2 linked regions of the Homo sapiens genome follow. The protein of the gene in region 1 purifies or fractionates together with the protein of each later gene. This does not show direct contact. Each region holds a gene or a part of one and is shown on either strand. Other genes may lie near its edges. The genes, in order: LTA4H and ENOSF1.

Evidence for each region.
Region 2: the proteins of LTA4H (region 1) and ENOSF1 fractionate together in Homo sapiens (co-fractionation; one large-scale study listed by BioGRID). This does not show direct contact.

What each region holds. Positions count from the first base shown.
Region 1 is NC_000012.12:96,015,088-96,018,587, reverse strand, and holds part of LTA4H (leukotriene A-4 hydrolase), read left to right. Parts: intron 1-1,007; coding exon 1,008-1,031; intron 1,032-1,473; coding exon 1,474-1,544; intron 1,545-2,893; coding exon 2,894-3,005; intron 3,006-3,500. UniProt on the Homo sapiens protein: Bifunctional zinc metalloenzyme that comprises both epoxide hydrolase (EH) and aminopeptidase activities. Acts as an epoxide hydrolase to catalyze the conversion of LTA4 to the pro-inflammatory mediator leukotriene B4 (LTB4).
Region 2 is NC_000018.10:710,261-714,382, reverse strand, and holds the start of ENOSF1 (mitochondrial enolase superfamily member 1), read left to right. Parts: upstream 1-1,752; 5' UTR 1,753-1,795; coding exon 1,796-1,879; coding exon of another isoform or gene 1,880-2,023; intron 2,024-4,122. UniProt on the Homo sapiens protein: Plays a role in the catabolism of L-fucose, a sugar that is part of the carbohydrates that are attached to cellular glycoproteins.

The sequences.
Region 1 (3,500 bases):
TTGTGGTTATCACAATCTCATTTTTTTTTTGTTGTTTTTTGAGACACAGGCTTGCTCTGTTGCCCAGGTTGGAGTGCAGTGGCACAATCTCAGCTCACTGCAACCTCTGCCCCCGGGTTCAAGCGATTCTCCTGCCTCAGCCTCTTGAGTAGCTGGGACTATAGGTGCACACCACCATGCCCAGCTAATTTTTGTAATTTTAGTAGAGATGGGGTTTCACTATATTGGCCAGGGTAGTCTCGATCCTCTGACCTCGTGATCCACCTGCCTTGGCCTCCCAAAGTGCTGGGATTACAGGCATGAACCACCCCACCAGGCCTCCATCTTGTTTTTGAAAGGAAAATAATCAGGCCATTTGGAGAAGGAGAATATTATGTTCACGGTATTTGGGGAGTTGGGCATGGGGGTGCTGTGTAACAACAATTCATTGATAAATTATGTATCCAGACAATCAGACTATACCAATTACACTTGGTGTGTAGGTACAATTAAAAAAAAAATCAGTACACCATGTACAGGAAAGGATTAGGGCCATAGAACGCTGCTATGTTTAATATGCCTGTGAGCTACTTTAAATTCTTCTTAGAACCAAAATGAGTGATGGATTAGCAATAAAATAAATAAAATACAGCACAGGACACATAGGACACTCTAAAGTTTTATTAAATATATTTTGGGTAATAGGAGAGAAAGAAAGTGATGGGTAAATAAGAGCAGATATAAAAATGGAAGTAGAAGAAATGTTTCATGGAAGTTAGACACAAATAGACTGGCTTTCATTGTATTGCAAAAATTCCCTAGAATTAGGGCAAGAAAGAATGATGCTAATTTTTAGTTCTGTATTTTTTTTGTTTTTTCAATTAAGGTCTCTTTTACCTTCTTTGAAGTGCTGTAGTAGAAATACAGTGGATCACCAGTGCCAGTATGCTAAGTATTTAGGTAGGCAGTCTTTTAGATAGTCTGTAATTCGATTACTAAAATACTAAGGTAATTTTCTTTTTTTGTAGGCAGGCGACAAGTCACTCTCCAATGTAAGTTAAACTTTTTCATTATGGCCTTACCTTCAAGAAGTATTACGTCAACTGATTTTAAAATATCCCTTGTATTTTTATGTTAAAGATATGGTTATAATGGACAATTTGGGGACTCTTCTCACATTATTAACAATTAGATGTAATAGATTTAAGGAAATTTTATGGTTTGATCTCTTCATATATTTATGAAATATTTTTAATGCAGTGATATATCTATTTAATATTTTCTAAGTAATTTTTGTTTTCTAATTACTTTATGCCATATTTGTGTGTGTGTGTATGTCTTTGGTTAAATTAAAGATTTTGCTGAACTGAGTAACTCCCTGAATATCTCAGCTAATATTTTTTAAAAATTGAATAACATGGAGTGTTTACAGTAGAATGGGTTATTTTAGGTTAAGATAATCAGTCTTACTATTAATCACACTGTTTTCTTTAGGTCATTGCACATGAAATATCTCATAGCTGGACAGGGAATCTAGTGACCAACAAAACTTGGGATCACTTTTGGTAAGATTTTTGTTATTATTTCTTTATTGGTTCATGTTGCTGATTTTTTTTTCCCTGCCTCCTACCACTCTGAATTGTTTTGTGTGTATCTCTTGTTTTTCTTTGTTATCATCTCTTAGGTAGGCAAGGATTTTTTTTTTTTTTGACATGGAGTCTCACTCTGTCACTCAGGCTAGAGTGCAGTGGTGCGATCTAGCTCACTGCAAGCTCTGCCTCCCAGGTTCAAGTGATTCTTCTGTCTCAGCCTCCCGAGTAGCTGGGATTACAGGCATGCGCCACCACGCCCAGCTAATTTTTTGTATTTTAGTAGAGATGGGGTTTCACCGTGTTGCCCAGGCTGGTCTCGAACTCCTGAGCTCAGGCAATCCACCCACCTTGGCCTCCCAAAGTGCTAGGATTACAGGTGTGAGCCACCATGCCCAGCTATTTTTTTTTTTTAATTGGAGACAAGGTCTCACTCTGTGGCCCAGGCTGTAGTGCAGTGGTGCAATCTCTGCTAACTGCAACTCCAGGGTTGCAATCCTCCCTCCTCAGCCTCCAAAGTGGCTGAGACTAAAGGCGCATGCCACTATGCCTGGCTAATTTTTGTATTTTTTATAGAGATGGGATTTCACCATGTCGCCCAGACTGGTCTCAAACTCCTGAGCTCAAGTGATCCGCCCACCTCGGCCTCCCAAAGTGCTGAGATTATAGGCATAAGCCGCCACGCCCAGCCAACAAGGATTTTTTTTTTTTTTTTTTTTTTGAGATGGAGTCTCACTCTGTCGCCCAGGCTGGTGTGCAGTAGTGTGATCTCTCTGCCTCTCAGTTCAAGCAATTCTTGTGCCTTAGCCTCCCGAGTATCTGGGACTACAGGTGCACGCCACCATGCTCAGCTCATTTTTGTATTTTTAGTAGAGACGGGGTTTCACCATGTTGGCCAGGCTGGTCTTGAACTCCTGACCTCAGATAATTCTCCCGCCTCGGCCTCCCAAAGTGCTAGGATTACAGGCGTGGGCCACCATGCCCGGCCAACAAGGATAGTTCTTAAAAATTCTGTAACACTTATTACAGCGTTAGGAGTGTTAGGTTCAGTCTAGGTGTTAAGTTTAATTCCTGATATACTCCCACTTTTAACATAGGGACATGCAAGAGCAGAAGCAGGGCTTAACTTTCCCTGCTGCCATCTGCTGGGCTGGGCTTCCCATTGCTCTGGATTGACTGCCTGGGAGCCAGAGTCGGCTTAGACTGTAGTGGTCATGCCTTACAACTGCTTTCCTCTGTAGAAAAGCCAAAAAGAAAATATCTTGATTGAAATGTCTTTTCTTCTCAGCTGTGTCCGTGTTTTTATTAAAATATTTTTTTTTCAGGTTAAATGAGGGACATACTGTGTACTTGGAACGCCACATTTGCGGACGATTGTTTGGTGAAAAGTTCAGACATTTTAATGCTCTGGGAGGATGGGGAGAACTACAGAATTCGGTAAAGGAGTCAAAGTTTTAAAAACCTTCATCCAAAGTTGTATAGGTGTTAAAAACTGAGTTTTTATAAAAGCGTCTTTACTGTGTAGCAACCAAAAAGTCATTTTTACAAGTGTGGAAAGTGAAGTCAATGCTGGTATAACACTGTGTTGATCCACACTGTTCACTGTTCTATGTAAGGTAGTTTTGATGACCTGGTCTAAATAGGGAGCTGTGGGACCTCACTGGGTCTTTGCTATTAATATAGCTGTTTACTATGTTTGCATCTTATTTGGTATGTCATTTTTAAGTGTTGTCTCCTGAAAGCCAAATTTGCTGACCAGGCATTAAATCATTTTTCTAGTCTTTTTATAAGAATAAAGCCTGTATTATTGAGCAAGAAACAACAGAGAATATTACTTAAGTAAGCATTCTATTAATAGACTTCCAGAAGTTTATGCCAACATATCCTAGTGTTCCAGTCTCCAAGTTTTAGATTCCCCTAAAGTTACACCAC
Region 2 (4,122 bases), on another chromosome or scaffold:
AGAAGTGGTGGAAGCAGACATCCTTTCCTTGTTCCAAATCTTAAGGAGAAAGCATCAATCATTCACCATAAAGTCAGTTTGTGGCTGTTTCTATCTTCTGAAATAGATTATAGAGAATTGTTGTAATTTCTTCCTTAAATGTTTGGTGTAAAATTCACCAGTGAAACCATGGACCTGGTGCTTTTTGTTTTTGGAAGGCTATTATTTATTCAAGTTATTTAATAGATATAGGCCTATTCAGATTGTCCATTTCTTCTCGTGTGAGTTTTGGCAGATTGTGTCTTTCAAGGAATTGGTTTATTTCATCCAGGTTATCAAATTTGTGGACATAGAATTCATAGTATTCCTTTATTATCATTTTAATGTCCGTCGGATCTGTAGTAATGTTCCTTATTTCACTTTTGATATTAGTTATTTGCGTTCTCTTTTCTTGCCTGGTTAGAGGCTTATTGATTTTATCAATGTTTTCAAAGAACCAGCTTTTGTTTTCATTGATTTTTCTTTGTTGCTTTCCTGTTTTCAATTTCACAGGTTTCTGCTTTAATTTTTATTATTTCTTCTCTTCTGCTTACTTTGGATTTTCTTTTTATTTCTTTTTATTTATTTATTTTTGAGACACAGTCTCACTCTGTCGCCCAGGCTGGAGTGCAGTGGTGCGATCTCGGCTCACTGCAACCTCCGCCTCCTGGGTTGAAGCGATTCTCCTGCCTCAGCCTCCCGAGTAGCTGGGACTGCAGGCGCCCGCCACCACGCCCGGCTAATTTTTTGTATTTTTAGTAGAGACGGGGTTTCACCGTGTTAGCCAGGATGGTCTCGATCTCCTGACTCGCCATCTGCCCGCCTTGGCCTCCCAAACTGCTGGGATTACAGGCGTGAGCCGCCCAGCATCTTTTTTTTTTTTTTTTTTTTTTTGAGTCGGAGTCTTGCTCTGTCGCCCGGGCTGCAGTGCAGTGGCGCGATCTCAGTTCACTGCAAGCTCCACCTCCCGGGTTCAGGCAGTTCTGCCTCAGCCTCCCGAGTAGCCGGGACTACGGGCGCGCACCACCACGCCCTGCTAATTTTTGTTTTTAGTAGAGGCGGGATTTCGCCGTATTGGCCAGGCTGATTTCAAACGCCTGACCTCAGGTGATCCGCCCGCCTCGGCCTCCCGAAGTGCTGGGATTACAGGCTGAGGCACGGTACGGGGACCTCATCTGCATCAGTACGGGTGTAATCAATGATGACCTGCCTCTTAATTTATCAGGTGGCAAACTGAGGCTGTGGGCACTGAAAGAGACCTAGCATTTTCTAGGGCACCGCTCTCCTGGGTACGCTGGCGACAACCAGCGGCCTCGGCTTGGGAGCTGAGCCACTGGCCGGAATCTGCCGCTGAGCGAATGCACTCGCTCAGACCCGACTTCTCCCTCTAGGGCGCGGCTCCCGGGCAGGTCCCTTCACGAGTCTTCCATCCGAGCAGAGCAGGGTCCCGCGGAGGCGCCGACCGGGCGCGAGGCCTCCTGCCTGCCCAGGTTCCCCGGCGACCCTGAGCGAACCCTCTCGGGGTCAGCTCCGTCTAGGCTGAGAAGGGAACGGCGGAAGGCGGAGTGCGCCCCCGGGAGCCCGGAGCTGGGACTGCAGCTCCCATGGGGCCAAGTTCACGGGGTGCGGCCGCGCGGCCAATGAGCGCCCTCTATGCCCTGACGGTGCCCCGCCTCGCGGCGCTGCCGCGCTCCCGCCCTCCCGCCCTCCCGCCGCGCGCTCGGGATCCCGACCAGTCCTGACCGCACGGGGGCCGCGGCCACGGGGCGCAGGGGCCATGGTGCGCGGCAGGATCTCCCGGCTCTCGGTCCGGGACGTGCGCTTCCCCACGTCGCTTGGGGGCCACGGCGCGGACGCCATGGTAAGCGCGGACGCCATGGTAAGCGCGGACGCCATGGTAAGCGCGGACGCCATGGTAAGCGCGGACGCCATGGTAAGCGCGGACGCCATGGTAAGCGCGGACGCCATGGTAAGCGCGGACGCCATGGTAAGCGCGGACGCCATGGTACGCGCGGCTTGCGGCCCGGGTCCCTCCCGCCCCGCCGACTGCAGCTCTGCGGGCCCCGGGCAGCTTCCCGACTTCGAACCCATTGCTTCTGTAAAGTGGGAGGCGCGCCTGGGGGAGACACTCGCTTTTCATGCCTTGGAGCAATTGTATAAGTATCCAGAAACTTTCCACTCTCCTGGGTTTTTTCTTTGCTGGAGTTTAGAATATCCTGGTTTTACTTTTACGACTCACATTTTGCTGGAAATGGTAGAATGCATAATAGGCAATAGCAGCAAAATGATTTTGTTGGGTTCCCGCCAGTGGAAACCCTAGAGCACAGCGCTCGCTGGCTTCCTCTGTACCCTGAACGCGACGGGGTTGGCGCTGAGGGAGAACGGGAAGCCCGGGGCTGGGAGTTTTGAGTGGTGATCCCGCTTCCACAACTTGCTGTGTGACTTGGAGAAGTTCCAGACCTCTCTGGGTCTCTTGGACCCGTCTGTGTAATGAAGGTGTCACAGTCGGGTTGAGAAACCAAGCGCGTGCTAACTGCGTCACATGAGAGGGCGCTCTCGTGAAATTACCCGCAAACACGCTTAGAAAGGACTGATGCAAATGTCAGTTCGTCTTAAGAGATGTAATAAAGTAAGGGCAGGAACTCTGACTCCTACCTAAATATTGAAGGTCTTTTTTGCTTACTGAGGGTGTTAGAATGTCAGGCCTTCCCTCCCCTGCCCCCGTCTAGAGCGGTGTTTCCCAAATACAGTGGGTTCTGTGCAGGGTTTTCAGGGAGCCTGTTCCCCACTGGGTCCTCACTGCCCCTCGTAGTCCACTGATGAGATTGGCCGCGCTAGAAAAGCAGAGTTGTATGGGTATGTAGTGAATGTGTGAAAGTATGCTGGGAAGTGAGGAACGGCAATGTTAGGAAAATGGTTACCAGTAGGGAGGGAAGGAAATGGGGTCACGGAGGGGACCACGAGGTCTCTAATTCCCATTGTAATGTTTTACTTCCTAAATTGGGTGGATGGCAAGCTGGTGTCCATTACATTATCTATACTCTTTTTGTACCTGAAATGTTTTATAAAAATAGATCTCTCGTTAAAGTTATTAAATGCAAAACAATGTCCTTTTTGAGATTAAGTTCATCCTGCATTTTTAAATTTTTATTTTATTCTATTTTATGTTTTAAATTTATTTATTTATTTATTTTGAGGCAGGGTCTCTTATCTGTTGCCCAAGCTGGAGTGCAGTGGTACTATCATGGCTCACAGCAGCCTTGACCTCCCTGACTCAACCAATCCTCCCACCTCAGCCTCCCAAGTAGCTGGGACTACAGGTGTGCACCATGATGCCCAGCTACTTTCTGTATTTTTTGTAGAGACAGGGCCCAGGCTGTCATCCTCTTTAAAATCTTCATGTTTCCTTTCTTACATGATGTTGGTAAATAACTTAAACACCCAGCAGGCAATCCTTTATGGAACTCAAAATAAATGTTGGAAATTTTACTGGCTTATAGAATCCAAACACTCGATCTCATGCAACTGCCTTTGCCTCTGTGAAGCTTTAGCAGCTGTGGCTAAGTCACACAATCTTTCTAAGCCTAGGTTTCTCATCTGTAAAATGGGTATAATAATATTCACTTTATACATGTAAATGAGATACCTGTAAAGAGCCTGGCTCAGAGAAGGCCGTCAGTAAAGTTGGCTATAGGCCAGGCATGAGGGCTCACACCTCTAATCCTAAGTGGAGGCCTAGGCAGGGGGATCACTTGAGCCCAGGAATTCAATTACATGAGCTATGATCATGCCACTGCATTCCAGCCTGGGCACTGGATGACACAGTGAGACCCTGTTTCTAAAGAAAAAAGGAGGGGTGGCTGTAATTACTATTCACTCTGAGGAAACTGAAGCAGAAGGAATCCCTAATCTAGACTTGACTTTGAATTTGTGAAATGTTAAGACAGCCTGGTTTGGCTGAGCGTGGTGGTTCAAGCCTATAATCCCAGCACTTTGGAAGGCCAAGGCAGGTGGATCGCTTGAGCCCAGGAGTTCGAGACCAGCCTGAGCAACATAGTGAGACCTCGTCTCAACAAAAAAATACAAAAATTAGCTGGGCGTAGT